Homo sapiens: one gene and its partners. The protein of the gene in region 3 purifies or fractionates together with the protein of the main gene of each other region. This does not show direct contact. Each region holds a gene or a part of one and is shown on either strand. Other genes may lie near its edges.

Region 1 (7,028 bases), on a different chromosome or scaffold from region 3:
CACTCCTACCCTGTGGAGTGTGCTTTCATTTTCAATAGATCTCTGCTTTTGTTACTTCATTCTTTCCTTGCTTTGTGCATTTTGTCCAGTTCTTTGTTCAAACACCAAGAACCTGGACACCCTCCATCAGTAACATATTGAGAATTGACAACAGAAGTACAAACATGAGTAATGAGTCTATGAGTGTCCCTTGTACCAGATTCAGATTAGGTTTTAACACAATATAATGAATCCTGTCTTCTCAAGATATTTACATTTGTCTTATCTTCTTCAGATGTGCTCATCTTTTGCTACGGGACCCAGACAATACGATGGAATATTCTATGAATTTCGTTCTTATTACCTTAAGCCCTCAAAGATGAATGAGTTCCTGGAAAATTTTGAGAAAAACGCTCATCTTCGGACAGCTCACTCTGAATTGGTTGGATACTGGAGTGTAGAATTTGGAGGCAGAATGAATACAGTGTTTCATATTTGGAAGTATGGTAAAGAGTCATCCAATTTTGGCTTTCAGTATAGATTTTCATTTTTCAGTATAGATTTTCATTCTGTTAAATGTAACATAAAACTTAGTTCTTGGATGTATATTATTTTAGATACATACAGGTTAACTAAGACTTTTGAAAAGCAATACCAAAAAAATAAATTCAGTTCTTATTCTTCCCAGTGGTACACCTCTAACCCCTTGCTTAAACATTACATTATATTACATTATAAATTGGAAGACATGGCATCTCATATATCAAGCGATAAAATTGTGAACTAGACTTTAAACCTCAGAAAAATATTAAAATGGTTTGCTGTAAAGATAGTTCATGAAAAATTTAAAGCAGCAATTGTAAAAGTCCAAGTGGATTAAGATCACAAAAGGAAAGGAGAAGTATCTTTTCTCTTTTTGAAGCTAGGGGGCTGGATATCAGTATTTTAGCAGAAATAATTCAACCATTTAAGGGACTTCACAATATGGAGGTTTATAGGGGATGATGGTTAACTTTCAATCCTCACTGAACTCTGAGATTTAATAATTCTGTTATGTTTAGAGACCACATTTGTTTCATATCTGTACCCCCAGAGTTTTGAGGAATTCACTGTCATACTACTCTAGGGAGGTAAAAGAAAAGGAATGAAAGAGAGTTCTTCCCGTGTTGAAACTAACCTACGCCTGGTTTAGTAGAGGAAGGAGAATAAGTTACAAGAATGCCCAGAATGCTTGTTACTCCAGTGTCTACATCAGGACTTGATGATACCTAAAGAATTTTTAATAATTTCATTTAGTGTTTGGTTTAGGGTTTTTCCCTGTTAATAGAAAAAGCCCCATTAAAATACATTTTATGCTTTAGATGTGGTACAAGTTGTATCACAGCCCATTAAAAAAACTAAGTTCTGATATACCTCACTTAAGTTGTAAGATAGGTATTCTTCCTTATCCCAATGTAAACCATATGAACCTCTCTTGCCATTAGTCTTATGAGGTCCTAATGGTAATTATAGTACTAGGCCCATATGTTGGCAAATGTATATAACTGTTTGGGTAACTTAAATAGAAGAGAAATAAGTGCTGGGGAGAAAGAATGGATGACAATAAGAGAATCAGCATTATTTCTTTGAAATCTGTTTGTTCAAAGGAGAAGAGGCTTAAAAAGTACGGTTTAACTTCACTCATGTTAAATTTGATTCAAGATGTTTTAACTTCACTCATGTTAAATTTGATTCAGGGTGTATCTGAACTTGACTACCCACCACCACCAAAGAAAAACAGTCTTTCTCTAAACTAGCACTATAAGTTAAATGCCTCAATCAAGTAAGAATAGTTCACATATACTGAGTATTAACTAGTGCCAACCGCTATATTCTAAACTCTTTTCATGTGTTAATTTAATCCTCATACAACCCTGGAGGTAGATGTCTTATTATCTCAATTTCACAGAAAGTGAGGCACAGAAAGATTCAATAACTTACCTAATTCACAAAACTGCCTACTATATGGTTGAGCCTATAAAGCCTATTATGTGGCATTACAGTTAGTTTGCATTTCTACTGCCCTTTTTGTCCTTGAGCAACTTCAGGGCAGATGGTCACATCTGTTTACGTTGGTGTCTCCAAAGGCCTAACACAAGGTTCTTATATGGCATCAATGACCATTGCTGATGTGAATGAAACCCAGAAAAGTACAGGTGATTTAAAATTGAATTTTTTATTTTTCTTAATTCTTTTCTTCCCACAGATAATTTTGCTCATCGAACTGAAGTTCGGAAAGCCTTGGCCAAAGATAAGGAATGGCAAGAACAATTCCTCATTCCAAATTTGGCTCTCATTGATAAACAAGAGAGTGAGATTACTTATCTGGTACCATGGTGCAAATTAGAAAAACCTCCAAAAGAAGGTAAGTCCTTCCTTCTTAGTCACTGAGTTTTGATGAATAAAATACTAAAGAACTTAAGTGATCAAAACTGAAGTTCCTTTGGAAAAAAATAAAATTAATTCTTTGTTTTATATAGAAACATACAGTGATTGTTGTGGTAAAAATAAATGGGAGCTCTTACCCCATCCTTTAAAAAAATGAGCATAAAATAATGAGATATTTTTCAAATTGAGACCTTGCAGATTTGTAAAGCTTAACTGTGTTATAGAGAAAGCTGACATGGTCAGTAGAGGTTGAGAATTTGTGCATTGGGAGCAGAGAACGTGTTGATAGGTAAGGGATAGCATAAGAAGTTTTGCCATAATTTTAAAATAATATGATCTTTAAAATGTAAAAGTATTTCCATAAATTATAACTAATCTTAAATCATTAAATACAGCTTTGCTTATAAAACTGAGTATTTGGGGGAAACAGATTAAGTGAAACTGCCAAGCTATATTACTTTAATCTAACTTTTGTGTCTTCTTTCTTGTTTCTCAGTTTGAAAGTAATTGCTTAAGATTTGTCTTCTTGCTGATTTCACTTCTTGCTGACTTAAAGAAACTATTACCTCAATCCAGTTTTAAATAAAGGTCAGATTAGAAAAGCATAAACTTATTTAAATGTTATTTTACTTCCCCCATTATTCCCAACTTTGTAGTGTATTTAGGTTACAAAAAATTTACAAAGTCTTCCTTGGATCTTTACCTACTTAGGTGTCCCCTCAGCTCTCAGCACTATCTAAATAAAATAGTTCACTTCTCTGACAGTGTCAAATCTTGGTTCTCCTCCTCTGTGTACATCACTGCTTGGAAATTTTTACATGCTTTTCCTACTTGTCCCAGAGTTTCTTTCTCTCCACCAGCCCTATACTTCTGTCCAAAGTGTACAATACTTTTCAAGTATTTACCTGGATATTTAGGAAAAATAAAACCATCTCTTTAGGTTTGTCTTTTTTCCTCCAAAATTCAAAGATATCACTTCAGGTCCACTCTTTGCTTTGCTGTTCCTGTTAAAAATGGAAACTTATAGGGAGAAATTATATGAAGAAAAACATAGTGGAAATTGGAAAGAATGAAAATATAGATTGGAAAATTCTTCTTTTATTCTTTTATTTTCTAAAAGCATAGACTTTTGCAGCTCAAAATTCTATATCATTATACATTCTCAACAGTTTTTTAACAAATGTTATAGATTAAAAATATTTCAGATAATAGTTATAATAGCTTCCAGTTCTTTTTCTTTGTCATCTGTATGATTAAGCATAACAACTCACTCTTAAACATGGGCAAGGACTTTCTAAGCATAAAAGCAGAGAGTGCAAATATAATAAACATGTCTACATAATATGTATGCATGTCTGATCCTCCAAATCTGTGTGTGTAGATAGTGAAAGACTATTCACTGAGAAACGTGATTGGATATTGCTTGAATGTTTTCTGAAAAATTCTTTTTCTCCCTATTCCAGGAGTCTATGAACTGGCCACTTTTCAGATGAAACCTGGTGGGCCAGCTCTGTGGGGTGATGCATTTAAAAGGGCAGTTCATGCTCATGTCAATCTAGGCTACACAAAACTAGTTGGAGTGTTCCACACAGAGTACGGAGCACTCAACAGAGGTACAATTGTCCATTTCTTCTTATATGAAATTGTAATATATATTGTGACCTAAGTTCCTTGGGTCAGGTTCTTTCTCATTATAGAGTATGTTTTATTATTTATTGCCAAATGTTTAGTTTTTTGTAATTTTTAAAATTGAGAAAATCTGTTTTACATCTTATTTATTTAGAATGTTAACTTATGAAACCTTCAAATGCTGAATAGCTGTTTTCCCTGATACATCAAAATGATTAAATTTTTTAAACTGAAGGAACCTCGGCTGGGCACGGTAGCTCAGGCCTGTAATCCCAGCACTTTTGGAGGCTGAGGGGGTGGATCACCTGAGGTCAGGAGTTCGAGACCAGCCTGGCAAACATGGTGAAACCCCGTCTCTAGTAAAAATAGAACAAATTAGCCAGGCATGGTGGTGGGGGCCTGTAATCCCAGCTATTCTGGAGGCTGAGGCAGGAGAATCACTTGAATCCAGGAAGCGGAGGTTGCAATGAGCCAAAATCGTGCCATCGCACTCCAGCCTGGGTGACAAGAGCAAAACTCCATCTCAAAAAAAAAAAAATGAAGGAACCTCAAGAAATAGTCTGTTACTTTCATCATTTCTTTTTCCTCTGAATGTACTTTTATTGATTTTTTAAAAATAATATTATTTGGGGTAGGGAGATTATCTCTAAGCAAAAAAGTAATATATGTTTTGTATAAATATGAAAACCCCCCTCATAAAAATTTACCCATTTTCCACCAGTTTTATATATATCTATATAGGGAGATATAGTAAATATGTATATATATTGAGGTAAATTTATATATGGATATAAATTTATTTAATAAAACACATACTTGGGGTATTTAACTTGTAATGTTGAAAAACATTTCAATCAGAATTTCAAGATTTTTTGTGGCAAATTCAGAAAAACATTTGTAAAGTTTATCTGAAAGGATAAAAGAGCTGATGAGGTAGCTCATACCTGTAATTCCAGCGCTTTTGGGAGGCTGAGGCTGGTGGATTGCTTAAGCCCAGGAGTTCACGACTAGCCTGGGCAACACAGCTTGTCTCTACAAAAAAAATTTTAAGAATTAGTTGGGCATGGTGGCAAACACCTGTAGTCCTAGCTACTTGGGAGGCTGAGGTGGGAGGATTGCTTGAGCCAGGAGTTCAAGGCTACAGTAAGCTATGATTGCACCACTGCACTCCAACCCCTGAACGACATAGTGAGACCCTGTCTCTTAAAAAAAAAAAGTAACGAAGAAAGGATAAATGTCTAAGAATAGCTAACAAATATTTGAAAGACTCATCATAATATCCTGTTGCCTTTCTATTATCTCTTTATGTCCAATGGACATCTCAAACCTAATATACCCATCTTTATGCAGAAATTCAACTTCTTGTAATAATCTATCATAAGAAAATAGAATATATAAAAACAGATGTATATTCAGGTTGGAAAATACATGGAGGAGAAACTGTTATGAAAATTATTAGATGCCTATCTCACACCATATGCGAAAATAAAGTCAAGCTGGATTGTATATTTTAATGAAAAAAATTTAATTCATAAAATTGGTAAAACAAAATGTAGATGAATTTATTTAATAATGTGGATTGGGACTATATTTGTAAGCCAAAAGCAAATGAAGAAACTATGAAGAAAAAAAAATCAACTTATGATTTTATTATACAAAGGCTCAAACTATCTGGATGCCTGAAAATCACCATAAATGAAATTCAAAAGCAAAAATAAAAATAAAAATTTATGCAAAAGTAGACATGCACATGGCTACTAAATATATATTAAAGAAAATGCATATTAAAACAATAATGAGATGCCATTTCTTTACCTTATAAAAGGTATACTTACATGGATATAGTATTAGGTCAGGAAAAAATAAGTACTCAGATACTGTGTAGGGTTCATATTAGCTTAATCTTCCCCCAAAATTTGACAATAAAAATAAAAGCCTTATTTTTATTGTTTTTGCCAGTATTACTTCTAGAAAATATGCCTGGGTGTGTATGTGTATAGGTGTGCTAAATTATACAGAAAAGAAATTTGAAAGTATATAACATACATAGTAGTCATATTTCAGTGAGATAAATGGTTAAGTCTCTATGTTAATATTCTTTTTTTTTTTTTTTTTTTGAGATGGAGCCTCGCTCTGTGGAGTGCAGGTACGATCTCAGCTCCCTGCAACCTCCGCCTCCTTGGTTCAGGCGGTTCTCCTGCCTCAGCCTCCCAAGTAGCTGGGATTACAGCTGTGTGCCACCATGCCCAGCTAATTTTTGTATTTTTAGTAGAGACAGGATTTCACCAGGCTGGTCTCAAACTCCTGACCACAGGTGATCCGCCCGCCTCGGCCTCCCAAAGTGGTGGGATAAGAGGCCTGAGCCACTACACCTAGCCTCTACCTTAATTTTCTATACTGCACATATTAAGTTTTATTTTTTTAAAAACTACAGAAAATGTGTGTTCATACACTTTTTAATCTTAAATTCATTCTCAGTGTTAGGAGAATTGGTAATCAGTACATCATTTCTGGAGGACAGTGTATACTATATACACTATATGTAAGTACATATATATAAGACATGCTCTTTGGTTCTGTCAACTTAAATTCTACTTTATATTAAGGAAATAATCAGATTCAGACTGCCTGGGTTTGAATCCCAGGTACACTACTTACTTTTTGACTTTGGGTAAGTAAACCTCACCATACCTTAGTTTTTTCATCTATAAAATGATAGATTATTATGAGGACCTAGATTATTATGAGGATTAAATGAGTTAATACATTAAAATGCTTAAAACTAGGCCTGACACATAGTTATCATTCAATAAATGTCAGTAGTTGTCATCGAAAGTATTATTATAAACACATAGTTGTGCTCAAATGAAGTTTATGTTAATATTGTTTACATTAAAGAAACATTGGAAATGTAGTATGACCTTCTTTATGTAATACATACGTAATACAGAAATCGATATACATGTACGTCATATCGTGTATTTACATAAGCA
Region 2 (7,028 bases), on a different chromosome or scaffold from region 3:
TTTTTTTGGCTTATATCACATAACATAAAATTTAATTTTATGTGTGTGCAATTCAGAGGTTTTTAATATATTGGCAAGGTTGTGCAGTCAGTCACCACTATCTAATCTCAGAACATTTTGATCACCCTGAAAAGAAACCCGGTATCCATTAGCAGTCCCTTCCTATTCTCCTACCCTCCCTCCTCTCAGTCCTTTGCAATCACTAATCTGTGTCTCTATGGATTTGCCTATTCTGACATTTCATATAAATAGGATCAAGCCTTTTGTTTGGCTTCTTTGACTTTGCATGTCTTCAGTGTTCATCCATGTTGTCACATGTATCAGTACTTCCTTTTATTGCTGAATAATACTCTGTTTTTTGGATATACCACATTTTATGTATCCATTCATTAGCTCATGGACGTTTGTGTTGTTTCCACTTTTTGGCTATTGTAAATAATGCTGCTACGAACATTCTTATTGAAGCTTTTGTGTAAACCTGTGTTTTCATTTCTCTTGGGTGTATACTTCAGTGTGGAATTGCTGAGTCATAGGGTAACTCGGAGTTCTCCTTCTGTCACCGTATTTTCAACTTGTCTGAATTTAGAAACACCTTAGAATCCAGTGCGCCTACCATTTTGTTATCCTTTAAAGAAAGGAGTGAAGAAAAGGATTTTGATATTGACAAGAAAGGAAATCACTAGTAAGGAGGTAATCTAATCATTCTATGTCATCATTTAACTCACTGAATCATACTTGCCATAAACTAAAGCTTTTATTACTGAACAAAGCTTCCCTCACCCAGTATGTGAAGAACTGGAATTGTGGAGGATGATACCCTTTCTATTGTAGATGCAGTGAATTAATAAGGGTTTGGGTTGTTATGTACTTTAGTGACCTCTATAGTATTCTCTTAGTAACAAGAGAATACTATAGAGGTCACTAAAGTACATTAGAGAAATAGTACCATATAGTCTTTTTTCTCCAGAGTGATAGAATTATGTTCTGTGAATTGTCCCAAACTCTTTTTTTTTTTTTTTTGAGACGGAGTCTTGCTCTGTCGCCCAGGCTGGAGTGCAATGGCGCGATCTTGGCTCACTGCAGCCTCCGCCTCCATGGTCCAAGCGATTCTCCTGCCTCAGCCTCCCAAGTAGCTGGGATTACAGGCGCCTGCCACCATGCCTGGCTAATTTTTGTATTTTTAGTAGAGACGGGGTTTCACCATGTTGGCTGGTCTCGAACTCCTGACCTCAGGTGATCCGCCTGCCTCGGCCTCCCAAAGTGCTGGGATTACAGGCGTGAGCCACTGAGCCCGGCCGAATTGTCCCAAACTCTTTTGGGGCTTTTATAAATTTAGAGTTTCTGAGTTGATACTCCTTGATCTTCCATGGGCTGTACAGTGCTACTTTTGTTGATGTAAATTGCCAAGTAATAACAGCACTTAGTATGTGTCAGGAACTGTTGTAAGTTAATTATAAGTGAATTAACATGAATTAGGTTGTGTTGTTATCCTCATTTTTATATGAAGAAAATGAGGAACAGAGATACTAAGAAATTTGCCCAAGGTTACACAGCTAATAAATTGATAACTTAATGTTTAGTGGGTTCAAGTGTATTTGTTTAGACTTCAAATCCACTTCTGCTGAATTCTCAGCACCTACCCCTAGTGTACTGTAAATATAAATATTTTAAGGAGTGAGAACATGGGACGAGAACTTCACGTTCCTAGCTCAGGATTGGAGTTCTACTTATGAGCAAGAATTCTTTCCCATCTTTTTACATCGTATGACTGACTTTAATTACTGGAAGAATTGAGGAATTTGTTTTGTGTTAATCATAATTGATGCTGTAATACTTCACTGTTGGTTTAGTTCTTTAGTTCTTTATCCACCTCGTCCTGTCATCAGGTCCCCATGGCTAAGAAGATTCATGGTAAAGTTTGTTAATTAAAAGTAATATTTTTAAATTTTATAAAAATCAGAAGGGTTCTAGGACCGTATGGAATCTGTATTGGTAATCTCTGGTTCTAGGTTTTCTATACTGGATTTGGGAAGAGAAGTAGAGTGGAGTATTGGGATTTACTTTGTCTTAAAAATATCCTTAGAAGTAAAACATGTAAAAACATATTTACTCCTAAATATCCTTAGGAATATAACATTTAGAATACTGGAATATTCTTTTTTATTTTTTTTGAGATGGAGTCTTGCTCAGTTGCCCAGGCTGGAGTGCAGTGGTGTGATCTTGGCTCACTGAAACCTCTGCCTCCCGGGTTCAAGCAATCCTTGTGCCTCAGCCTCCCAAGTAGCTGGGACTACAGATGTGTGCCACCATGCCCGGCCAATTTTTGTGTTTTTAGTAGAAATGGGGTTTCCCCATGTTGGTCAGGCTGGTCTCGAACTCCTGACCTCAGTTGATCTGCCCGCCTTGGCCTCCCAAAGTGCTGGGATTACAGGTGTGAGCCACTGTGCCTGGCCAAATACTTGAATATTCTATATGGTTTTGACAGTTTCAGTTGAATGGGAACTGAGTTGCGGGGAATTAAAGATACTTCAGAGAACTGACTGGTTATTCCTTCATTCTACAGTTGGCTTAAATAACTGTGATTGATGGCCATGCAGGAGAAATATCCAACTGAGGGGATCTCTCACGTCACTTCACCGAGTGAGTAGTCAGAAGTTTTCTGGGTTAAATTCTGACCTTTGTTCTGTTTTTTCATATTCCTTAAGGTAAATATTGAACAAACAAGCATTCACTGAAATGCTGGTGCTAAAAGAATAAAAATAACATGGGGCTTCATTGAATATAAAAACAGGTCTCTGAGGGAACAAGTATTTATCTCTTGTGCTATGTGGCTTTCAACAGGACCACGTGGTTGGGAGAGGACGACATATAAAGGATTGGAACAGAATGACTTTGGAACATAGTTCCATTTGAAATCAGAAAAACACAGCATAAATTACTGTGTTCTATGTTGTCTTTGTCCTCTGGGTGGGTCAGTCATCTGCTAGCCCACAAAAATAGGAATTCTGCTTGGATGCCAACAGATTCCGTTGCATTGTTACTAGAAACTCAGGAATTTATCTTCAGAATGGATTAACAAGATTTTGAAACTTCAGTAGATATATTAAATATATACAGTCCTTAAGTGTCCATGGCGGACTGGTTCCAAGACCTCCTGCAGATAGCAAAATCCACAGATACTCAAGTCCCTGATATAAAATGGTGTGGTATTTGCATATAACCTGTGTATATCCTAATGTTTACCTTAAATCGTCTCTAGATTACTTGTAATACCCAATGCAATGTAAATGCTATGTAAATAGTTATACTGTATTGTTTGGGGAATAAGAAGAAAAACAAGTCTTATGCACATTCAGTAAGATACCATTAAAAAAAAAAATTGGTTGAATTCACAAACGTAGAAACCACGGATATGGCCAGGCGCTGTGGCTCATGCCTGTAATCCCAGCACTTTGGGAGCCCAAGGCGGGTGGATCACCTGAGGTCAGGAGTTTGAGACCAGCCTGGCCAACATGGTAAAACTCCATGTCTACTAAAAATACAAAAATTAGCCGGGTGCAGTGGCATGTGCCTATAATAATCCCAGCTACTTGGGAGGCTGAGGCAGGAGAATCACTTGAACACGGGAAGCAGAGGTTGAGGTGAGCTGAGATGACGCCACTGCACTCCAGCCTGGGCAACAGAGTGAGACTGTGTCTCAAAAAAAAAAAGGGGAAAAAAAAGAAACCATGGATATGGAGAGCTGACTGTATATTAAACACATAAATATATGTATGCACTGTGCAGGCATATTAAGTAGATAATATATATTTCAAATAAGTAATATTTTAGAAAAATGACTTGTTGAATTCTGGGGTATTGGTAAAGAAGAGGGCACGTTTAATTCAACTCAGGGTATGTTTTATTTAACTTTAAAATCTCACAGTGCCTTACTCAGCGTAGATATTTGGTAAATGTTTGGTGTATTCTCTTAGGCATGCTGCCTTGCATAGAGTAGGCACCATTATAAGCTTTGGTTGAATCAATTCAAGATTCATTCAGCAGAATTTTTTTTTTTTTTTTGAAATGGAGTCTCGCTCTGTCACCCAGGCTAGAGTGCAGTGGCGTGATCTCGGCTCACTACAAGCTCCGCTTCCCGGGTTCATGCCATTCTCCTGCCTCAGCCTCCCAAGTAGCTGGGACTACAGGTGCCCGCCACCATGCCCAGCTAATTTTTTTGCATTTTTTAATAGAGACGGGGTTTCACCATGTTAGCCAGGATGGTCTCAATCTCCTGACCTTGTGATCTGCCCGCCTGGGCCTCGCAAAGTGCTGGGATTACAGGCGTGAGCCACTGCACCCGGCCTCAGGAAATATTTTTTAAACATCTGCTATGTGCTGCACATTCTCTTAGGTTTGTACAGTTTCTATGACAATTATGTATATAATGCAAGTTTTTGGAACAATGCCTTTCCTATGGCTTTTTTCTCTCTTCAATAGTATCTCATTCAGATTAATAATGGTCTTAATAATTGATAAGGATGCTACTGATAGGACATGCACTATAACACAAAAAATTTCAGCTTTTCTTTTTTTTTTTTGGAGACGGAGTCTTGTTCTGTGGCCCAGGCTGGAGTGCAGTGGCACAATCTCAGCTCACTGCAACTTCTGTCTCCTGGGTTTAAGTGATTCTTGTGCCTCAGCCTCCCAAGTAGCTGGGATTACAGGCATGCACCACCACACCTGGCTAATTTTTTTGTATTTTTAGTAGAGACGGGTTTCGCCATATGCCCAGGCTGGTCTCCAACTCCTGAGCTCAGGTAATCTGCCCACCCCCGCCTCCCAAAGTGCTAGGATTACAGGCATGAGCCACTGCACCCGGCCAACTTCAGCATTTAAACTTCAATTTTGAAATAAGTGTAAACCTCTATAAATATACCAAAATATATTTTTAACAAATAACTCTTTGGAATTAGGGTATGGAGTAGGTGGATGGAAAAATGGTAGCGATGAAGAGTGGAAGATTAGTAGTAGTAACAGGGAAGCGGTTTCCAGTAGGAAGTCAGGAAGATGGTAATAGAGGCCCTCAATCTTAACTGTTTCAAAAGGCCTGGCAAATTTTACACTGACTAGAGAGAAAAAGCTGTGTAGACTCACCAGAAGGTGGGATTTCTTTGCTTTGGGCTAGAATTACACCAACTTAGTATAGTAGCATTGGCTAATCTCATGCCGCTCAGAAACTCGGATTGTTGCCTGTGTCTTCTATAACAATTACAGATTACTGAGTGTATAAAGATTCTTTCAAATCAGGCAGTCACTGTGATCCAAAGAATAGAAGAAGTATTTGGGGAAAGTCAGGTTGCCTTCAGTAGAAAGCCAAAGTAAGGGTAGCAAAAAATGAGCAAAAGTAGAAGAAAATAGATTAAAAAGATGAGAGAAGCACTAAACTTGGAAGAAAGGAATAAAGTAATTTGTGTCCAAATTACTTTGGGCGTAATCATTTAGTGGGAGCAATCATTTGCCTCCCACTAGATCAGCGAGTCTGTAGAACCGTATTTTCTGAAATCGGCTTTCACACTTTAAGTTAAATGGAGGATAAGTAGCTGCCATTAGTTTTTTTGTTTGTTTGTTTATTTGTTTACATGGATCACCAGATACACCTTAGGAAAATTATAGTGGTTTTTAGAAAATAAATTTAAGTCTTTGCTAGAATGTTAGTGAATCAAGTATTTATTGAACACTTCCTACCTACCTCCCCCCAAACAGCATATTTTAAATCAAATAAATCTCATCAGTCTTTTTGTCTTAACCTTCTCAGCAGTTTTAGTGATATCTTCACGTTGCTCTCAAGATAAAGCCCTAGGCTCTTCAGATTGACTTTCAAAACTCACCTTGATCTCAATAGGATTCACCTATTGAGGGTACCCTGGTTCAGTGAAGCAGTGATTTTCTTTTTTTTTTTTTTTTTTTCTGAGATGGGGTTTCGCTCTTGTTGCCTAGGCTGGAGTGCAGTGGCGCAATCTTTGCTCACTGCAACCTCGAAGCAATGATTTTCAACTGGGGACTGGACTGCTTGTTGCCCTAGGAATCATTTGGAACTATATGGTTATTTTCTGGTTTCACAGTGATGGTGGTCTTGGTTGAGGGTTGCTGCTGGCATTCAGTGAGTGGGAACCAGGGATGCTAAACCATTCTGTAATGTATAGACTACACATTGAAGAATGGTCATCCCCAGAATGCCAAAAGCACCATTGAGAAACTGTAAGAAAGAGGAAAGAATGTGGGTTTTGGAATCAGAAAGAACTGGATTCAAATATCAGCCCTCCCCTCTGTAAAATAGGGGTGGTAATACTTTTCAGTAAGTAGGTAGGCAAGATTATGTTTGTAAGGTCCTGTGGCTTTACAGGTTTCAATAAATGGCCACTGCTATTAAATATGATTGTTTTCTGTTCCAGTACTCCTGGATTCTTCATGGGTCTTATTAACATCTTTGAATATTCTCACTTCTCATACTATTTCCACTTAAAATTAACTAGCTCAGGCTTGGCGCAGTGGCTCACACCTGTAATCCCAGCACTTTGGGAGGCCAAGGCGGGTGGATTATGAGATCAGGAGTTCAAGACCAGCCTGGCCAAGATGGTGAAACCGCGTCTCTACTAAAAATATAAAAATTAACTGGGCGTGGTGGTGGGCGCCTGTAATCCCAGCTACTCGGGAGGCTAAGGCAGAGAATTGCTTGAACCCAGGAGGTGGAGGCTGCAGTGAGCTGCGCGCCACTGCACTCAAGCCTGGGTGACAGAGCAGACTCCGTCTCAAAAAAAAAAAAAAAAAAAAAAAAAACTAGATCGGAGCAGCTGAAATAGGCACAGGAGAGAGAAAGGGGTGGGTTGCTGCTATTCTCTTAGGTTTATGTGATTTTTTAAAAAAAGATCTGATGGGGTTACATCAGCTGGTTCACAGTAAAGGTGGGAAATGCCTCTTGTTTCAGGTTCCGATGTGATTCAGAAGGGCAGTTCCCTGGGGACTGAATGGCAGACCCCAGTTATCTC
Region 3 (7,028 bases):
TAAATATGAAGAGGCATTATTTGCTTTCCCTCTCTGTTCCTCTGCTGCCTTACCCTGTTGTGGGTGTGGTGTGGTGAGATGGTGGGGACAGGTGTGCATCTTGGTGTTCCTTTCCTTTTTGGGGTCCCCTTCTCCAGAGAGAGCCATTTCCTGCCGAGTTCCTGAGTAGGATAGCATAAGGTCAGCTCTAGCTTTAAATTTCCTTTCCTGCTTTTCTTTTCTTTTCTTTTTTTTTTAAAAGTCGGAGTCTTGCTCTGTCAGCCAGGCTGGAGTACAATGGTGCTATCTTCAGCTTATTGCAACCTCCACCTCCTGGATTCAAGTAATTCTCCTGCCTCAGCCTCCCAAGTAGCTAAGATTACAGGTGCCCGCCACCACACCCAGCTAATTTTTGTATTTTTAGTAGAGATGGGGTTTCACCATATTGGCCAGGCTGGTCTCTTGGCCATGCTGGTCTTGAACTCCTGACTGCCTGCCTCAGCCTCCCAAAGTGCTGGGATTACAGGCATGAACCACTGCGCCTGGCCAATTTTTGTATTTTTTTAGTAGAGATGGGGTTTCACCATGTTGGCCAGGCTGGTCTCGAACTCCTGACCTCAGGTGATCTGCCCACCTCAGCTTCCCAAAGTGCTGGGATTCAGGCGTGAGCCACCACGCCCAGCCTCTTGCTTTTATTTCTGCATTCCCTTCCTTGTCTCTCAACAGTTTCTGGCAGTGTTCCCTGAGATTACTGGCCTACCAGAGCGATTAATTTTGTGGACTCAATGCTTCTGATTTCAGGTTATGAATTGTTCGTCTAAAACTGTCACCAGCTGGGTACAGTGGCTCATGCCTATACTCCCAGCACTTTGAAAGGCCAAGGTGGGAGGATCACTTGAGCCTAGAAGTTTGAAACCAACCTGGACAACATAGGAAGACCCCATCTCTACCAAAATAATGAGCTCAGCTGGTGGCACACACCTGTGGTCCCAGCTACTCAAGAGGCTGAGGTAGGAGGATCACTTGAGCCCATGAGCTCAAGGCTGCAGTAAGCTATGATTGCACCACTGCACTCCAGCCTGGCAACAAAGTGAGACCCTGTCTCAAGATACATATATATATGTATATATAATCATAATATAAAATTATCAAATATATAAATATGATCATATCACTTTCTCTAGAACCCAAACCATCCTCATGAATATGATGGAACAGGGCATGTACCGTGACACCTGAAGGCCTCTTGGAGCTACCCATCCGGTCCTTAAATAACTCCAGAACCATCAGCTGAAAAACTGAGAAGCCAGCCAAAAAATTAATCTGCATTATAAAGCTGGTCTGTTTGGTACTTTAAAGGAAAAATCTCTTCTATATGATCTGGCCTCCCCCACCTCTCATTTGCCTTTGTGGAAACGTAAGGTTGTCTTCATGAGTTTTGACAGCTATTTGCAACTCAGGACCTTTTTCAGTTTGACTTACACTCAGCTGTGTAAGACGGTTGAGGCTGCTGGGAATTTTTCTTCGTGATAAATGTCATGTTAATCTATCTGTGTGTCTTATACAAGAAATGCAAATCTGTTTTCTGCTTAGCAGCGGCATTGGAAAGAAGCTTGAAGACAGAGTAAAACTAATAATCCAAAAGGAACCTTTGATGTGCTGAATATACATTCAGTATTGTTCCTTTTTCATTATAGGTGGTATTTGAGATTTCATGAGCTATATAGAGAAACTTTTTTACCTCACACACCCAATACACACACACACACTCACATGTTGCCTTACATTTGAGTGTCTTTTTAGGGTTAATAGCCCTCATAGATAGAGTTGGGACATTTGCACTTTAAGTTAAATGTGCTGTTTTTAAATGCTTACAATTCAGGAAATCTTTACATCTGTCTAGCAAGGACTCAGGTGATTTTTTTTCTTTCTGTGAAATACTTTCGTTTTTTTCTTAACTTTTGGGTTATGATGAATCGAGTGGTGTTCGACATGTACGTAGAATGTTTCACCCTGGCCGGGGATTAGGAGGTCCTCGTGCTCGTAGATCAAACATGCACTTTACTAGCAGTTCTACTGGTGGACTTTCTTCTTCTCAGAGTTCATATTCTCCAAGCAATAGGGAAGCCATGGATCCTATAGCTGGTAAGTTAGTTTCACATTAATAAGGGAAATGGCAGGGGAAGGAGGAGCTCCTTTTAAAACTTTTTGTGATGCCAGGTGCGGTGGCTCACACCTTTAATCCCAGCACTCTGGGAGGCTGGAGCGGGTGGATCACTTGAGGCCAGGAATTCAAGACCAGCCTGGCCAACATGGCAAAACTCCATCTCTACTAAAAATAAAAAAATTAGCCAGATTTGGTGGTGGGTGCCTGTAATCGCAGCTACTCTGGATGCTGAGGCATGAGAATCGCTTGAGCCTGAAAGGTGGAGGTTCCAGGGAGCCGAGATCGCACCACTGCAGTCCAGCCTGGGTGATGGAGTGAGACCCTGTCTCAAAAAAAAAAAAAAAAACTTTTTGTGAGATTTGTGTTCTTAAGTCTCACCTCTCTGATCATAAGCCATGTTCCTTCACAAAATTCCCAAATACATTAAAAGTGTAAAATGTGTTAAAAGCAGACACTTAACATAAAGTAATTCATACTCTTCTGGCATTGCTTAAGTCCAGTAGTCCCCCCGTCATGTGGTTTTGCTTTCCTGGGTTTCAGTTACCCACAACCAACTACAGTCAAAAAATAGGTGAGTACAGGACAATAAGATACTTAGAGAGAGACCACATCACATAACTTTCATAGTATATTTTTAGATTTACTCTATTTTGTTGGGAATCTCATGTTCCTAATTTATAAATTAGGTGCCTAATTTATAAATTAAACTTTAGCACAACAGATAAGTATGTATAGGAAAAAACATAGTATGTATAGGGTTCTGTATTATCCAAATGCCCATTTCAGCCATTCACTGGGGGTTTTGGAACGTATCTCCTGCAGGTAAAGGGAGACTACTGTTCTTAGAGACAAAAGATGATAAGAAATGGTTTTATGTTGTATTTGTGGCCTCTATTGAAGCCCAAGGAAATCATAAAAGATTTCAACTTGAATACCTCCAAAATGTCATGGTTAAATCTCCATAAGTACACATAAAAAAATGTCCAAAGCACATTTGAAATTAAGGTTTTATAAGGTATAGCTAACATTTTTAAGAACATGTTATGTGTAAAATTCTGTCACAGATTTATGCCTATCTCAGATGTTGTGCAAGGCGCCTCATGGCTTCCAGGTACACATTCCACCACATGGACACATTTCAGAACTGTTATCTATAGCTAATTGAAAAGACTAAAGAATTAAGCTCTTCTCATGGAAGAAAGGAAAGTAGGACTTAATGTCCTGACCTTGATTTGAGAACTATATTGTTGTAGAACATACTGAAAGGTACATGTTTAATAGCTTGGGAAAAATCTTAAAAAAAAAAAAAAAAACACAGTTTTTGAACCTGGCCATGTCACTGAGTCTAGTACATGACAAACCTAGGAAGTTGGTAGCAGAACACAGGGTCAAAATAAAATACAAGAAATCACTGTAGCCTGATAATCTGCAAGACACACCAAGCAGACAAGTGGTAAGACAGTGGGAAGTGTGCACACATTTAAAGCAACAATTCTGAAATGTGTCCATGTGGTGAAGTGTGCACCTACCTGGAAGCCATGAGCACCCTGCAGAACACCTGAAACATTGATAAGTGTAAATCTGTAATAGAAACTGAGAACATCAGAGCTAAATGACAACTTAGGAACACAAAGGAGGAGACAGCAGACACTGGGGGAGGGTAGCAAGAGAGAGAGGAGCAGAAAGATAACTGTTGGGTACTGGGCTTAATTGGGTCCTGGGTGATGTAATAATATGTATGACAAACCCTCGTGGCAGGTGTTTAACTGTGTAACGGACCTTCACATGTACCCCCAAACCTAAAATAAAAATTTAAAAAAGAAAAACAACCTAAGAACAATTTTATACCTATCATGTTATTTAAAAGTTAGATATACCATATAAAATTTTAATTCCAAATGTGCTTTGGACATTTGTGTGTGCAACAACAAAAACAAGCCTAATAAACTGAGTTTGGGGGATTTAAAAAATATTTCTTCATCCAAAGGGAATATTTACCTGCTATTTTGGTGGCAGGCACTAAAAATTAAAGTAGTTTCTGGGAGCAAAATTCAAAATTGAGAAATTTTCTTCATTTGATTTTTTTTCTGTCAGTGAAAATTAGTTTATTTTAGTGATAGACTGTATATTCCATGAAAGAGTGGTATAAGAGTGCTATAAAAAGCCTGGGATAAAGCAACAGTGAGCAAGAAAACAAACTGTTAATGAGTTTTAATGATAAAGAGTTTTTGCTGGCCTGAAAGTGTCTGCAAGGCAGTCATCGATTCCCTATAAGCGAGGTGGACCCTCCACTTGGAAGAAGGCATTTCACTGTACCTTACTTAGATGAGGATGCGGGGACAAAAGTTTACACCTCTCTTAATGAGTACAGCCTTATGGACACAAGACAGTCTGGATCATAACAGGCCACTAAGTAGGCTGTACAGTCAGATGCAGCAGGTTCTCAGGAGCCAGTCAGCCTTGCTGAGCACTGGTAGTGGTATCTACTGCAGTGGTACTCTGAAACAGCAGTACCAGAAGGTACTAGAGGGAGAAAGCAGAGGCAGAGAGTGTGCAAGGGCCACCATCAGAAATGATCCAGGCCTCTTGGACTGAATCCTAATAATTCATTCAGTCATTCAGTAAATGTTTGAATTCCTGCTATATCAGGCCCTGTTCTGATAGCTGGGAATATAGTCAACAGTAGACCTCATCCCTGCTTCCATGGAACACATATTGAGAGAGCTTATATTATAATTGGGCCCACAGATAAACCACTTCATTAAATACTAAGAGAAAGCTTCACTAAATTAGTCTATTATGCAAATAATTTTAAAGACAATTTAAGTTTTACTTCAAACATAATTCAGTCTGGGTTAATATTCGTATGCATTTGCATTCTCTGTCCACAGTAACTCCTGCCTTCAGGAGGCATTCTAGAAGGATTCAGCTCTTAAACTGTGTGCTGTGGTGGTTACCTACCTGTTCACAATGCTTTTGATGTTGTTCCAGTAAAAGAGTGATCTGTAGCGTTTTGTTTTCCTCAGTATTAAGCAGACATTAATTGTCTTCATTTCCATTGGCAGAGCTTTTATCTCAGTTATCAGGAGTGAGACGTTCTGCAGGAGGACAGCTTAATTCCTCTGGCCCTTCCGCTTCTCAGTTACAACAACTGCAGATGCAGCTGCAGCTAGAACGGCAGCATGCCCAGGCAGCACGGCAACAACTGGAGACCGCACGCAACGCAACCCGGCGTACTAACACAAGCAGTGTCACCACTACAATCACACAATCCACAGCAACAACCAACATAGCTAATACAGAAAGCAGTCAGCAGACTCTACAGAATTCCCAGTTTCTTTTAACAAGGTAGCTCATTTGTTAATAGAATTTTGTTTGGGAAGTAATATTTTATTGCCACTACAGTCTGGAATTATCTTTTCTCTTTTGTGCATTATATTTCTTTAAAATTTTGTGTTTGATTAAAACTCACAGATCTCTGATTAAAACGCATATTCAGTATTTCCCCAAGAATGTGAAACATAGTAATTATTTTAGATAAATTAAGAATACTGGGCCAGACCCAGTGGCTCACACCTGTAATCCCAGCACCTCACACCTGTAATCCCAGCACTTTGGGAGGCCAAGGCAAGCAGATCGCCAGAGCCCAGGAGTTCCAAACCACCCTGGGTAACATGATGAAATCTTATCTCTACAAAAATGAGCCAGGTGTGATGGTGCGCACCTGTAGTCCCCGCTACTCAGGAGGCTGAGGTGGGAGGATCGCTTGAGCCCTGGAGACAGAGGTTGCAGTAGCCAAGATTGCACCATGCACTCCAGCCTGGGTGACAAGAGTGAGACCCTGTCTCTAAAATAAAATAACTGGTCTTGTTCTCAAGGTATATATCATCATATAATATGAATTGTTTTGCCATAGTACCCATAAAACTTAAACACTATATCATTATATATATATGGTTCATATTAGGTGTATTTATCATAATTAACGTTGCTTGTTATTGCCAGTTTTAATCTGCTTTGAAATATTAAAAGTATAAGAAGGATTTCATAATACAGTGGCAGTTTTCTCCTGTGAATTTCTAAAAAAGCTAGATTTAAATTTTTATGGTTGGCACACAAAAGTAACTTAAAAAAATGGCTTCCTATGGTATAAATAATATTTAGTAAAACAGTAAACTACTCTACTAGATGGAGTTCTTGTTTGCTTCTGAAACTGTTAGCAACTGCATGTATTTGTCTGCCAAAACTTCACAGGCATTTTATGTGACTTTTAGGAATATAAAGAATTCTTAAAAGAGCAATGATGAGTGGAGACTTAGCCTCAACAGATAATGAACCTGGACTAATTGGGCTTTTAAGGGAGCAGAGAGGAACATAAAGGAAGAACTGTAAAATGAAGAATAAAGTTTGTGTAATACATGATTATTTCCAAAATGCAGTGTGTATGACAATTCATTGGGATGTTAGAGGAAAATATTATAATTTCTACTTATGTTTCTTTTATCTCATACTCTGTTAATACAGTGGTGCATGTGTATAGTTATAAATAACATATTGTGGGTGCAGAATAAAAAATGCTTGAAAATCCCTGGGCTAGAGCCCCAGCTTTGCCAATTACAAGTTTTGGACCTCAGGCAAGTCATTTCACTCCTCCAAACCTCAATTTTATCATCAGTATCCCAGAAGTTTTGCCTTTAGAGAGATAATTATTTTGAGGATTAAATGGAATACTGGTATGTGTATGGTCTGGCTCACTATCTGGCCTATAGTAAAGGTCCAATTAATGGTACTCGTTATCAACATTTGTTATGAAACCAAGAAAAACATTTTAAATGGGTAATTTACCTTTGAATTATCTCTGCAAGGTCAGTAACTGTGCCTG

What was found.
Region 1: the proteins of KCMF1 (region 3) and NIPSNAP3A purify together in Homo sapiens (affinity purification with mass spectrometry; 6 studies listed by BioGRID and IntAct, with this or other methods). This does not show direct contact.
Region 2: the proteins of KCMF1 (region 3) and CEP85 purify together in Homo sapiens (affinity purification with mass spectrometry; 4 studies listed by BioGRID and IntAct, with this or other methods). This does not show direct contact.

Annotation. Positions count from the first base shown.
Region 1 is NC_000009.12:104,750,682-104,757,709, forward strand, and holds part of NIPSNAP3A (protein NipSnap homolog 3A), read left to right. Parts: intron 1-274; coding exon 275-485; intron 486-2,224; coding exon 2,225-2,383; intron 2,384-3,869; coding exon 3,870-4,019; intron 4,020-7,028.
Region 2 is NC_000001.11:26,237,199-26,244,226, forward strand, and holds part of CEP85 (centrosomal protein of 85 kDa), read left to right. Parts: intron 1-512; exon of another isoform or gene 513-690; intron 691-2,563; 5' UTR 2,564-2,585; coding exon 2,586-2,640; intron 2,641-6,967; coding exon 6,968-7,028. UniProt on the Homo sapiens protein: Acts as a regulator of centriole duplication through a direct interaction with STIL, a key factor involved in the early steps of centriole formation.
Region 3 is NC_000002.12:85,044,155-85,051,182, forward strand, and holds part of KCMF1 (E3 ubiquitin-protein ligase KCMF1), read left to right. Parts: intron 1-1,949; coding exon 1,950-2,124; intron 2,125-5,211; coding exon 5,212-5,494; intron 5,495-7,028. UniProt on the Homo sapiens protein: E3 ubiquitin-protein ligase which accepts ubiquitin from an E2 ubiquitin-conjugating enzyme and then transfers it to targeted substrates, promoting their degradation by the proteasome.